Linked DNA regions of Homo sapiens. The protein of the gene in region 1 purifies or fractionates together with the protein of each later gene. This does not show direct contact. Each region holds a gene or a part of one and is shown in the gene's direction. Other genes may lie near its edges.

Region 1 (3,500 bases):
AAAATTAGCCGCGAATGGTGGCATGTGCCTGTAATCCCAGCTACGGGAGGCTGAGGCAGGAGAATCGCTTGCACCCGGGAGACGGAGTTTGCAATGAGCCTAGATCTTGCCACTGCACTCCAGCCTGGACGACAGAGCGAGAATCCATCTCAAAAAAAAAAAAAAAAAGAAAAAAGAAAAAAAGAAAGAAAATGCCACTTTCTGCAACAGTCTGGTTAAGGTTGAGTTGCTCTGGGGCTAGGAGTGGGATGGGGTGGTACTGTCTTCAAGACACAATGTATATGGATGCAAAGGGTTAACCTTCCTACCCTCCTTCTCCCCACCTGCTGCCCCAGCTGCTCCAGGGCCCAAGTTCCCCCTGGCACATGCTTCTAGGGGCACACAGCTCCTGCCCTGCCTCTCAGGGGCCAGCGGCCAGGACCCACTGGTCTGGTGCCTTGTAGCCCTGGAGGCGGGAGAGGGTAGGTAAGACACAGGTCTGGTAGTCATGTTCACCTAGGGTGATTGTGAAAAACACGAATTGCTAGGCCCTGCCCCAGGCATCTAGTTCAGCATTTGCAGGAGAGAGGCCTGGGAGTCTGTGTATTTTTAAGGAAGATCCCAGGTTTCAGAAACGCTGGTTGAGAGATTAAGTTCCCTCACTTTAAATCAATGGTCCTCAAAGTTGGCTACACATGGAATTGCCTGGAGAATTAAAGAAAAAAAGCATATACTGATGAGAGATTCTGATGTAGTTGTTCTGGGGTTCAAACAGCATTGTGATTTCACAAAGCCCTGCAGGTGTTTCTAAATGTGCAGTCAGGACTAACAATCACTGCTTTAGAGCCAGACATGCCTGGTGGTTCTGCCTGAACTGAAGAACTGTGACCTTTGGCCCTGTATTAATACTTCATCTCTCCAGGCCTCAGTTTCTTCATCTCGAAAATGGGCTCATGCCTATAATCCCAGCACTTTGGGAGGCTGAGGCAGGAGGATCACTTGAGCCCAGGAGTTTGAGACAAGCCTGGGCAACATAGTGAGACCCTCAACTCTACAAAAAAAAAAAAATTAGTCTGATGTGGTAGTGTCTGCCTGTGGTCCCAGTTACTCAGAAGGCTGAGGTGGGAGGATTGCTTGAGCCTGGGAGGTTGAGGCTGCAGCAAGCTGTGTTCATGCCACTGCACTCCAGCCTGGATGACAGAGCAAGACACTGTCTCATAAAAAGAAATGTTAGTGAGAATTGTGATCACTCTTTGGGAGTGGTGCTGGGCATGCAGGAAGCACGCCTGGAAACTGTTGTTCATAGTGCTTGCAACCTGGTCAGTCTTTACATATTCTGGATGCAAGTTCTTTATCAAATAGATAATTTGCAGATATTTTATCCAAGTCTGTGGCTTCTCTTTTTGTTAACATTGTTGGCCGGGCATGGTGGCGCATACCTGTAATCCCAGCTACTCTGGAGGCTGAAGCAGGAGAACCACTTGAACGCAGGAGGCGGAGGTTGCAGTGAGCAGATATGCCACTCCACTCCAGCATGGGTAACAAAATGAGATTCCATCTCAAAAAAAAAGAAAGAAAAGAAAAGAAAGAATGAATAAGACCTACTATTTGATAGGACAACAAGGTGACAACAGTCAGCAATAACTTAATTGTACATTTAAAAATAACTAACAGGCCGGGCGCGGTGGCTCACGCCTGTAATCCCAGCATTTTGGGAGGCCAAGGTGGGTGGATCATGAGGTCAGGAGATCGAGACCATCCTGGCTAACACGGTGAAACCCCATCTCTACTAAAAATACAAAAAATTAGCCGGGTGTGGTGGTGGGCACCTGTAGTCCCAGCTACTTGGGAGGCTGAGGCAGAAGAATGGCGTGAACCCGGGAGGCGGAGCTTGCAGTGAGCTGAGATCGTGCCACTGCACTCCAGCCTGGGTGACAGAGGGAGACTCCGTCTCAAAATAAATAAATAAATAAAAATAACTAACAAAGGATAAATTCTTGAGGGGATGGATACCCCATTCTCCATGATGTGACTATTAATATCTAGTATTTGATAGCACAACAGGGTGACTATAGTCAAAATAATTTAATTATACATTTAAAAATAGCTGAAAGAGTATAACTGGATTGTTTGTAACACAAAGGATAAATGCTTGAGGGGATGGATGGATACCCCATTTCCCATGATTGTATATTGTATATTGCATGCCTATAGCAAAACATCTCCTGTGCCCCATAAATATATACACCTACTATGTAACCACAAAAATTAAAAATTAAAAAAAAATAGCAAAACCTGCTCACAGGCAAACCTGCTCACGTAATCCTGTTTTTGAGATAGAGTCTTGCTCTGTCATCCAGGCTGGAGTGCAGTGGCACAATCTCGACTCACTGCAACGTCTACCTTCCAGGTTTAAGCGATTCTCCTACCTCAGCCTCCTGAGTAGCTGTGATTACAGGCACGTGCCACCATGCCTGGATAATTTTTGGTATTTTTAGTAGAGATGGGTTTTCGCCATGTTGGCCAGGCTGGTCTTGAACTCCTGACCTCAAGTGATCCACCGGCCTCGGCCACCCAAAGTGCTGGGATTATAGGCATGAGCCACAATGCCCGGCCTAATCTCTTGGGCGTTGAAAGGCCTTTGGTTGTAAATCTACCAAGGCAAGCTCTCCTTCAGTTTATCTTCCTCCCACCAGCACCAGCCACTCATCCACATCTTTTGTCCTAAGGCTCTGTGCAACCCCAGGAGCCTTGCACAGATCCTCAATCTGAGCCCCTGGAAACTTGCTATCAAAGGCACAATTTCTGAAAGTGCAGGTGGCTGGCAGACGGAAATCTCTGCTAATTCCATGGTGTGATATGGCAGGTACACAGGTCAAAGCGCCAACCACTGAACTCATTGAGAAAGCCCTCAGACCCAGTGGAGTCTAGTGATGTCATGGGGGAGTCAGAAAGGTCAAGGGCAATATGTGGGAATGGCCCAGCCCATTGCATTTTTACAACTTCTAATCAGCATCAGTGAGAAACCCTTCCTTGCGTGGCCTGTGAACCCCGCCTCTGATGCTGCTGGAGCACTTTCATTTCACTTCTCAGCATCCTGTGGGTGTGTCAGGTCTCAGAAAGACTAAGTGGCCCTGCCTAGGTCACGCAGCTGGTGACGGGAGGCCCAGAACTTGAAATCAGGGCCGAGCCCAGCCCACTTCCCAATTCCCTGCTGTGTCCCATGACCAGTAGCACGCGTCAGAGGCTTTCCCAAAGGCCTCCATGTCCCGCCTGTTGGGGAAGCCCCTGGCTTTCTCTCTGTCTGGGATTGACTCTCAGCTCTGTCCTGGTTGGAGAGAAGAGATTTCCAGGATGGTACCCAGACAGTGGTGGAGGCCAGAGTCTGGCAACCAACGAGCCTTTTGGACAATTGGGTGGGGAGTTGGGTCATTGGGTTGGAGAGGAGGGGTTCAAGAAGAGGCCCAGGGGTCTCAAATCTGTGTCCTGTGTGTTTCATGCCCAGCATGGCAGGGAATTTA
Region 2 (3,500 bases), on another chromosome or scaffold:
CACTCCAGCCTGGGCAAAAAGATGAGACTCCGTCTCAAAAAAAAAAAAAAAAAAAATTGGGAAACTAAAATAAGTGATTCTAGCTTTATATCAGGTTGGTGGCATAACCATGTGAAGACCTGCAAAATTCTTTTTTTTTGAGACTGAGTTTTGCCCTTGTTGCCCAGGCTAGAGTGCAGTGGTGCAATCTCGGCTTAATGCAACCTCTGCCCCCCAGGTTCAAGCGATTCTCCTGCCTCAGCCTCCCAAGTAGGTGGGATTACAGGTGCCTGCCACCATGCCTGGCTAATTTTTTTGTATTTGTAGTAGTGACAGAGTTTCACCGTGTTGGCCAGGCTAGTCTCAAACTCCTGACCTCAGGTGATCCACCTGTCTCATCCTCCCAAAGTGCTGGGATTACAGACGTGAGCCACCATGCCTGGCCTAATAGTTTTCTTTTTAACTGAAAGTTGATATTGTCATTTGAATCTACTATAGGATAGAGTAAATTAATTGTATTAATGTTGTTAGGCACCAAGATTTTTCAGCATTAGAGTGAAAAGATAGACTTGCCTATATCAGTATGAACTCATGATTTCCTTTCATAAAACATTTGCATTTCCTAGTTCTGGCCAATGAAAAGGCCTGGAAGCAGTGATAACACAGTAGCAGTGAATACCCCATCCTCACAGATTGTGATCTCTAAATACAATTCTTCACTAAAAGGAACCACTTCCTTGGAGAAGTGGTCAACTCTAGGTCTGGGACAGAAAATGTACAAGTTGAGGTAGCAACTTTTGTGCCAGAAAGCAAAGCTATAAAAGACTAATGAGATTTTGTTAAAGGGTCGTAGGAAGCAACTTGAAGAGATTCACACCAACCTAAGATGGGAACATTAAGAATTATGAATAGAAAGATAAAGCATGTCAAGTATATAAATGCTCCCCCGAAAAATCCCCCCTCCGTTTAAACCTAACTGGTCAGCATTGGTGGTTGATGGAGTCCTCACTCATTACTTTGAAAATTGATAAATAAAGGGAAGGAGTCAAGCATTTATCTTGCCTTTCTTATACAAACTGTTTCTCAGAGTAACCAAGTGGTTGATGAGAAAAAGAATTTTATAGACGAATTCCAGTTAATAAATGGAGAATGGATGCTGGATCAGACAATTACCATTTTGTAATCCTCAAGAAATGGATCTAGGCCACTGGTTCTCAAACTTTACCAAGCATCAGAATCATCTGAAAAGCTCGTTAAAATCCAGATTGCAGCTCTCTTTCCAAATGTTCGGATTCATTAGATCAGCGGTAGGGCCCAATAATTTGCATTTTTAACAAATTCCCCAGTGATACTGATGCTGCAAATCTGGGGACCCCCCTTTAAGAACCACTGATCTAGGCAGATGATCATCAAAAGATGCTGAAACCTTTAGCTGAACTGTTTGATGACTGTTAATGGGGAACTTTATAATCAGGCTGTTGTCATCTGACTCTACTGACCAATTTTTATTAGGCCCAGTTCTCTAGAACCTTGCTACAGGAAGCATGGGCCCAACCAAGACCAACTATATTGGCATCACTCCTGAGCCAGTACAGAAATGCATCTCAGGCCCTACCCAACTTACTGAATCAGAATCTGTATTTTAGCTAGATCTTCAGATGATTTATATGCACTTTTTTTTTTCCAGAGTCTTGCTCTGCTGCCCAGGCTAGAATGGAGTGGTGTAATCATGGCCCACTGTAGCCTCAATCTCCCAGGCTCAAACAATACTCCTGCCTCAGTATCCCAAGTAGCTGGGACTATAGGCGCATGCCACCATGCCTGGCTAATTTTTGTATGTTTTGTAGAGATGGGGGTCTCACTATGTTGCCCAGGCTGCTCTCCAACTCCTGGGCTCAAGAGATCCAACCGCCTTGGCCTCCCAAAGTGCTGGGATTACAGGCCTCAGCCACCATGCCTGGCCTGTATGCACATTATTTATTTATTTACTTATTTATTTATTTTTTTTGAGATGGAGTTTCACTCTTGTTGCCCAGGCTGGAGTGCAATGGTACAATCTCGGCTCACTGCAACCTCTGCTTCCTGGGTTCAAGCGATTCTCCTGCCTCAGCCTCCCAAGTAGCTGGGATTATAGGCACCTGCTACCACACCTGGCTAAATTTTTTTATTTTTAGTAGAGACGTGGTTTCACCATGTTGGCCAGGCTGGTCTCGAACTTCTGACCTCAGGTGATTCACCCTCCTTGGCCTCCCAAAGTGCTGGGATTACAGGTGTGAGCCACCACACCCGGCCATGTATGCACATTAATGTTTGAGAAGCACTACTCTAGAAAACCCAGTCTGGCTGGGCGCGGTGGCTCATGCCTGTAATCCCAGCGCTTTGGGAGGCCAAGGTGGGTGGATCACTTGAGCCCAGGAGTTCAGGATGAGCCTGGGCAGTATGGCAAAACCCCATATCTATTTAAAAAACAAAAAACAAAAAAAAAACTATGGCAAAGTTATGTGCTACACTTCATTAGGGTATGCAGTCCCAAGGCTGCAGGAGTAGGGGAGAAAGGGAAATGAGACAGGGAAGGAGTTAAAGCAAGTATGATGGGATATACTGAGGTGACCACAAATCCACAAAATATAGCCAACTTGCTTGGTCATGTGTGCAAAATTTTTGTCTCCAGAAAGGCTGTATGGAACATTTGTACTTCAGAACAGTCTGTTGTGTGGAGACAGGGTAAGAAGTTTACTACAGCCTCTTAGCCTGTTTGGGTTGAATCTGAGTGCCAGAGCTCCTCCATGTGCTGCCGCAGTGCATGGTGGAAGCCATGTGGAAGTATGGCCCTTAACTCTGCAGATTCAAAGACAACCAGTGGCGTTAGGAGATGAGGTCTCTTCATTGAATAGTTGAGGCGTGGCAGCAGGAAGAGTTAGGTAGATACAAGGAGGCACATGACTGAATCCAGTACAATCTCAGTATCACTAAGAGTAGAACAGAGAGATATTTATGTGTCTCCTGGTGAGTTATTATACAGTAGGAACTGTGCTGTACATATCTTCTACGAAAGTTAAAAAAACTTCAAACTCAGAATTTAGTCAGTCTTTTACATGAGTAGTTCTCAAATGTGGCTGCACAATAGAATGACCTGGGGAGCTGTTAAAAAACCCAGATATCCAATCCAAGTATTGGGTATTAAATGATATTAAGAAGTTAATTTTGTGAGATGAAGTGGCATGGTGGTGATTATGTTTTTAAAAAAATATACTCACTGGTTAGAGATGCATAATCAAGTATAGAGCAATATGATAATGACATCTAGTTTTTGCGTTGGAATGTTGTGGCATGAAAGATAAAAGTGGGGAATAGATAAAATTGGCTCTGAGTTAATAGTTACTTAAGCTTGATGATGAGTGCATAGGTGGATTATCATACTTTTTCTCTATTTTTTGTGTATGTTTGAAATTTTTCATTCAAAAAATTATACCAGAAGGAAAGAGGCAAAATTTCCCAATTGCCAAGACCAAGAAAATAAT
Region 3 (3,500 bases), about 42 Mb from region 1:
CAAGTATCACTTTCCCAGAGAGGCCTTCCCTAACCTTCCTGAGCACTGCATAGATTAAATTTCCCTAAGACCCCATGTACCTCTCCTTTAGTGTGGATGTTTATCTGCGAGGTGGGGGGCAAGTGAGAGAGACAGAGAGAATAATTTTTTCCTTCACTCTATTCCCTAAGTTTCTTGGACATTGAGACTATGTTTGTGTTTGCCTAGACCTGTATCTCTAACAAACTATATATAATAAGTATTCAGCAAATATTTGTTGAATAAATCAGTGAATTTCTAAGTGGTGCTATTTATTTGTGGCTAAAAGTAGGATAGGAACAGTTGTTGGAAGAGGAAAGATCAAGAGTCCTTTGAGTTTGAGATGGCTGTGAGCCATTGAAGAGTCAGTGTCAGGTAGACAGTCAAGCTCTTGAGTCAGGAGCTCAGAGACTGTTCTCTGAGTCTGGATTTGGATAATACTTTTGGGAGTCATATTATATTTGTATTATTTAATCCTGGGTGAGATGATTTAGAAGGTGCTAGAGAGTGAAGAGAAGAGGACCAGGAAGAACTCCAACTTTTACAAGTCAGGTAGAAGAGGAGACTCTACCAAAGGTCACCAAAAAGGAACATCCAGTGAACAAAGAGTAAAATTCAGAAAGGCTATTATCCGAAATCCAGAGAGAAGAGTGTTCCAAGAAGGCAGTGAAAACCTAGGTTGAGTGATGCTGAGCGACAGAGCAAGATGTCCATATGAGGTACGAGAAGTATCTATGTAGAGGTGCTGGGAGTCTTTGATGAGCCATTTCAATGGAGTAATAGGATGTAAGTGGAGACTGGAGTGGATTGAAGAGTAAAGGGGAGGTAATGGATATGGGTGAAGAGAGTGGGTAGCTGGCAGGAGACGTTAAGGAAGGTTTTCTAACGATGTGACGTTGCAGAGCACATGTGTATCGGGATGTGAATGTGTGTTAGCGTGTGGCACCTTTGTCCATGTGTGGCTTAGTGTGTGTGTTCTTGTGCATTGGATGTGTGTTCGATTCTCAGGGAATTTCAACCCTTGATCTTTGGCTCAGATCTTCATTTAGCATTAGAAATCAATATTTATATTTTTTAGAATTCATATAGCTTTAGTGGATCATAGATATTAACTCACTAGCTCTCAACTCTTTATAGTTGATGAAATTAATAATAAAGCAATGAACTGGCTTATTCAAGGGATCAGGCAAACTATTGATATAGCCGGGCAGGGAAACATGCCTGGAGAGTGTCGTTGGAATTGGTATAATGACCGGTAATAATCTTTTAAAAATACAAGCTATTTACTTTAGTTTTGCATACATCAGGTAGTTTGGGTTTTTTTAAATGGACAGTCTACATTTTCATTTGTTCTGCTGAGGCCAGTAATGGCTATGCTAAACAGTGAGAAGGTGGACAGGAATTTAAAACTGATCACAAATCCAAACAGAGGACTCATTCCCAAATTGGCAAGCATTTATGATGCTATTTTCCTTGCAGGCAATATATGAGCGCCTTTTTTGTTGGATCGTTACTCGCATCAATGATATTATTGAGGTCAAGAACTATGACACCACAATCCATGGGAAAAACACTGTTATTGGTGTCTTGGATATCTATGGCTTTGAAATCTTTGACAACAACAGGTAAACTGGAAAAGATACTTAAAACCTTGTTGCCTGTTTTCTATTTGTTGAAACTTAATTTATTCCTTTTCTTGTAGTTTTGAACAATTCTGTATCAATTACTGCAATGAGAAACTGCAGCAGCTATTTATTCAGCTGGTTCTGAAGCAAGAACAAGAGGAATACCAGCGGGAAGGGATCCCCTGGAAACATGTGAGTGGACTCTTATGGAAAATGCCTTCATGTGTTTCTCATATTATTGATAATGTCAAATTTTATTTTAGGTATTTCTTGATCTTTTGGGGGTATTTGAAACATCTGAACCTTAGCTTTCCTTTTTGGGATATGTAAATACAATTAATTTCATCATTTTTAGGTGGGATTGCTATAATTTGATAGACTGCCTTGTTGATGCCCAGAACATCCTGAGTTAGAACCAGTAAACCTGTTTTCACTTTATGGCTGCTACCACGTGGACTTACTGGTTTATATCTGTCTGTTAGGTTTAGCATACTTTATTAAGTTATACCTTAAATTGGCTGAACTTTGCTTCAGAATCTAGTTTCTTCTTCCCTTTTTCCTCCTTTTTCTCCTCTTCTACTTTGTAGACTATATGGTATTTTATTGTCTTCAGTTAATGTTGTTTATATTCTCTGAAACCTACACATTAAAATACTTGTTTTACTTTGCATTTTCTTGTGTATTACACTTCAATTATCACCTCTACTCTAATCAATCTTTGGGAACTTTTGTATTTGTCAGAGGCAAACTAATCTGGTAAGATATAGCTGGAAAGTATAATGGGTGCACAGTGCAAACCACAGAGATCAAAGCTAAAAGGCATGACTTGTTTGGTTTTTAAATTTCCTGTGATAAGACCTTCTGTTTATGATAGAAATGAGACATAGTAATTTTTCTTGTAAGTTTGTATTTTTAAGCAATTTTGAGAATAAACTTGAAAAATACAAAAACTTTTAAGTTTCTGTAGTTTGAGTTTATATGATTGTTCATCCTCTTGCCAGAGAATAGAAATGAAGCCAGTATTTGTTTTTTGTTATCCAATATAATAGCAGCAAAAAAATATTTGAAATACTATATTTAAATGACTTTTATCTTCCTTCCTACCTATTTTCTATTTCCTCTCATTCTGAAATAAAGAGACAGTGATATAACAAATAGCTTTCCCGCCTCAAAATTGTATCTGCCTTCCATCATGTGTTAAACGTTAGAATACCATAAAACAGTTGCTCAGGTATATTGGCATAAATTTTACCTATCTGCATATAAACCAAAGGGCTATTTTATATAAGAATTATCTATAGTTTGACTTAAATAATGAACTCTCCTAATACAATTAAAATTTAATTCAGTTCAATTAAGTGTATATGAAGCTTTCTAAGAATGAAACTGTTGTATAATATAATACACGGTATAACTGAAGCTTGGATTTTTAATACCAAATTTAATCATAAAACTTGTTATTCAAATGTGATTCCAAGGTACTAGTCAAAAATATCCTTTCACAATCAGAATATCAAATTTCACAGACATAATTGACAACAGGGTAAGTAATGCAGTGGACTGTTCCAAACATCTCAAAAAGAATTAAGAATCCCAAAATGCAAAAAATTTTCGCTAAATAAACCAAGAACTATTTGTCCTAGAGGGAGCAGAAGGCTAACTCCAAGGTAACAGTTACTTACTACATGGCAGATCCCCCCACAATTAGAATCTCTATTCTGGGTAAAACCCCAAACTTCTAAACATAGTGATTCTTTTTAAAAGATTTTTTATTATGGAAAATTTTAAACACACATTAAGAAGACAGACTATAGTACAGTAAACCCTATATACCCATCACCTGGCTTTAACACGTAC
Region 4 (3,500 bases), about 16 Mb from region 1:
ACAGTCGCTTGAGCCCAGGAGGCAGAGGTTGCAGTGTGCCAAGATCGCATCACTGCACTCCAGCCTGGGTGACAGAGTGAGACTTTATCTAAAAAAAAAAAAAAAAAATCAAGTGGCTGGGCACAGTGGTTTATGCCTGTAATCCCAGTGCTTTGGGAGGCTGGGGCAGGAGGATCCCTTGAGCCTAGGAATTCGAGGTTGCAGCGAGCTATGATTGTGCCACTGTGCTCCAGCCTGGGCGTCAGAGTGAGACCTTATCTCTAAACAGATTAAGAGAGACATCAGGTGGGGGGCGGCGACGGATAGCATTAGGAGATATACCTAATATAAATGACGAGTTAATGGGTACAGCACACCAAAATGGCACATGTATACATATGTAACCTGCACGTTGTGCACATGTACCCTAGAACTTTAATTAAAAGATCAGGAATTATGAACTGTTTATAGTAATTTTGCTATAATTTGTCATCTTTCAGTTAAAGAATTTTGTTATCCAAAGGAGAACATTTTGTTATTAAAAAGCATTGTTTTTCTACAATTGCCAATACATCCAAACAGGTAAAACTAATTAAGAGTGTTTTGTTGTTTCAGAACACCGAAAAGCTTTGGAGGATTTCACTCTTGATAATATTCTTTCTCATATTTATTATTTTCGCTGTCGTGACTACACAGAGTTACTGGCACAAGTTTATCTTCTTCCAGATTTCCTTTCAGAACACTCAAAGGTATGAGTCAGACTACTGAAATGTAACTAACCAAGTATTTTTTGAGGTGTTTGATAAGCATGAAAAAATAACCAGTACAGTAGCATAAAATCAAAGTCAAAGCCAATTGAGAAAATCTCTTCCTTCCTTGACCTACAATTTATTTATATTTATATTTGTTTTGTGTATGTATATGTATATATAGTTTATGCTCAGAGTAAGAAATTGAAATAATATAGAAGTTTCATTTCCAGTAATAGTGGAATAGCTCCTATCAAACCACATTGTATAGAAAGGTATGAAATGAAAAATAAAAACTTCCTTGTGCTACTGTTTTCTAGTGCCTCTCCCCAAAGGTGATCACTATTGGCCAGGTGCAGTGGCTCATACTTGTAATCCCAGCACTTAGGGAGGCCATGGTGGGAGGATCATTTGAGCCCAGTAGTTCAAAACCAGCCTGGGCAACATAGTAAGACATTGTCCCCACCAAAAAAAAAATTAGCCGTGTGTGGTGTAGCTGTAGTCTCAGCTACCAAGGGCTGGGTGGAGCAGGCCTGAGGTGGGAGGATTGCTTGAGCCCAGCAGTTCAAGGCTACATTGAGCTACCGTGCCATCATGTATCACCTTTTTTTTTTTTTTTTTTTTTTTTTTTGGGTAGAAATGGAGTCAACTCCTGGGGTTAAGCGATTCTCCCACCTCAGCCTCCCAGAGTGCTGGGATTATAGGCATGAGCCACTGTGCCTGGCCCTTTAATTTTGGTAAACATTATCAGTGACAAAGATTCTCCTTGACTGAACTTGGCCCCATCCTGTCTTTGGCCTACCCAGTCCAGTCTTAGCAAAGAATCCTGCTGTCAGTTCAGAGAGATTCTCTCACATTTGATAGTCTGAGCACCTTTGATACCTGATCACGTTCCTCATTCCCCACCTTTGATATTTAAATCCTTGGCTTGCCTTTATTTATTTATTTTTTATTTTTTAATTTGATGGAGTCTGGCTCTGTCGCCCAGGCTGGAGTGCATTGGCGTGATCTTGGTTCACTGCAACCTCTGCTTCCCGGGTTAAGGCAATTCTCCTGCCTCAGCCTCCCAAGTAGCTGGGACTACAGGCATGCGCCACAACGCCTGGCTAATTTTTTTTTTTTTTTATATTTTTGGTAGAAACAGGGTTTTGCATGTTGGCCAGGCTGCTCACCTGGCTGGCCTGCCATTAGTAAGAATCCTGTTCGGTCAGTTTAGCAAGAATTTCCCTACCCTTGATGTCTCACTGTTAGTAATTGTTCATCCACTGACCCCTTCACCTTGCTCTTGGTTGTGAATCCCCAGTTGTCCTTGTATTCTGATTTGAACCCAGTCTCTCTCCCCTATTGTGATACCCCTATTAGAATAGTCTTGAATACAGTCTCCTTACTGTTTTAAGAAGTGTTAGAATAATTTTTTCTTGAACACATATCGCCCTTCAGAAAGACTGCACCAATTTCTACTCTTACTGACAATATATGAGAATGCCTATTACCCATCATCCTGACCTTTTGAATATTTTTGCCAAGATTCTGCATGGAAAATGCCATCTCTTTGTTATTTTATTTATTTTAATTAATTAATTAATTTTTTTTTTGAGTCGCCCAGTCTGACTAACATGGCAAAACCCCGTCTCTACCTAAAAATACAAAAATTAGCCTGGTGTGTTGGCATGCACCTGTGATCCCAGCTACTTGGGAGGCTGAGACAGGAGAATCGCTTGAACCTGGGAAGCAGAGGTTGCAGTGTGCTGAGATCGTGACACTGCACTCCAGCCTGGGAGACAGAGAGACTCTGTCTCAAAATTAATAAATAAAAATTAAATAAATAAATACAATAGAAATTAATTTTCTTAGAGTTCTGGAGCCTAAAAGTTCAAGATCAAAGTTCTAGCTGATTCAGTTTCTGGCAAGGGCTTTCTTCCTGGCTTGCAGACAGCCATCTTTTCTCTGTGTCCTCATATGATAGGGAGGAAAAGAAGGAGAGAGTGAATTCCCTGGTGTTTTTTCTTTTTTTTGGGGGGGGGGTGGAGTTTCGCTTTTGTCACCCAGGCTGGAGTGCAATGGCGTGATCTCAGCTCACTACAACCTCCACCTCCCGGATTCAAGCGATTCTCCTGCCTCAGCCTCCAGAGTAGCTGGGACTACAGGCGCATGCCACCACGCCTGGCTAATTTTTGTATTTTTAGTAGAGACAGGGTTTCCCCATGTTGGCCAAGATGTTCTCGATCTCCTGATCTTGTGATCCGCCCACCTCGGCCTCCCAAAGTGCTGGGATTACAGGCGTGAGCCACCGTGCCTGACCCCTAATATTTCTTCTTACAAGGACGCTAATCATCTTAGATTAGGGTCCCATCTTTATGAACTTATTTGATTACTTCCTTAGAAGTCCTTTCTCCACATACATTCACATTGGGGTTTAGGGATTCAACATACGAATTTTAAGGGGACATAATTGAGTTCCCAGAAGTTTGCCCCTGGCCCCTTGCCCCCCTACCCCCTACCTGCCCGCCAAATTCATGTTTTTCTTGTATCCATTCCATCCACACAGCCCCAAACGTCTTAACCGGTTCCATCATCAACTCTAAAAGTCCCAGGCTTCATCTAAATATTATCTAAATCAGAGATTGGTGAGACTCAAGTTATAATTCATCCTGAAGTGAAATTCCCTTCCAGCTGTGAACGTTTGAAATCAGGCAAGTTATATGCTTTCAAAATACAATAGTAGGAAATGCATAGGATGAACATTCCCAAAAGGATTATGGGTGCCTAGCA

Evidence for each region.
Region 2: the proteins of DNAI2 (region 1) and EIF2A purify together in Homo sapiens (affinity purification with mass spectrometry; one large-scale study listed by BioGRID and IntAct). This does not show direct contact.
Region 3: the proteins of DNAI2 (region 1) and MYO1D purify together in Homo sapiens (affinity purification with mass spectrometry; one large-scale study listed by BioGRID and IntAct). This does not show direct contact.
Region 4: the proteins of DNAI2 (region 1) and RAD51C purify together in Homo sapiens (affinity purification with mass spectrometry; one large-scale study listed by BioGRID and IntAct). This does not show direct contact.

Annotation. Positions count from the first base shown.
Region 1 is NC_000017.11:74,277,234-74,280,733, forward strand, and holds part of DNAI2 (dynein axonemal intermediate chain 2), read left to right. Parts: intron 1-3,500. UniProt on the Homo sapiens protein: Part of the dynein complex of respiratory cilia.
Region 2 is NC_000003.12:150,553,287-150,556,786, forward strand, and holds part of EIF2A (eukaryotic translation initiation factor 2A), read left to right. Parts: intron 1-3,500. UniProt on the Homo sapiens protein: Functions in the early steps of protein synthesis of a small number of specific mRNAs. Acts by directing the binding of methionyl-tRNAi to 40S ribosomal subunits.
Region 3 is NC_000017.11:32,758,625-32,762,124, reverse strand, and holds part of MYO1D (unconventional myosin-Id), read left to right. Parts: intron 1-1,497; coding exon 1,498-1,643; intron 1,644-1,720; coding exon 1,721-1,835; intron 1,836-1,998; coding exon of another isoform or gene 1,999-2,013; exon of another isoform or gene 2,014-2,313; intron 2,314-3,500. UniProt on the Homo sapiens protein: Unconventional myosin that functions as actin-based motor protein with ATPase activity. Plays a role in endosomal protein trafficking, and especially in the transfer of cargo proteins from early to recycling endosomes.
Region 4 is NC_000017.11:58,702,602-58,706,101, forward strand, and holds part of RAD51C (DNA repair protein RAD51 homolog 3), read left to right. Parts: intron 1-594; coding exon 595-728; intron 729-3,276; coding exon of another isoform or gene 3,277-3,291; exon of another isoform or gene 3,292-3,416; intron 3,417-3,500. UniProt on the Homo sapiens protein: Essential for the homologous recombination (HR) pathway of DNA repair. Involved in the homologous recombination repair (HRR) pathway of double-stranded DNA breaks arising during DNA replication or induced by DNA-damaging agents.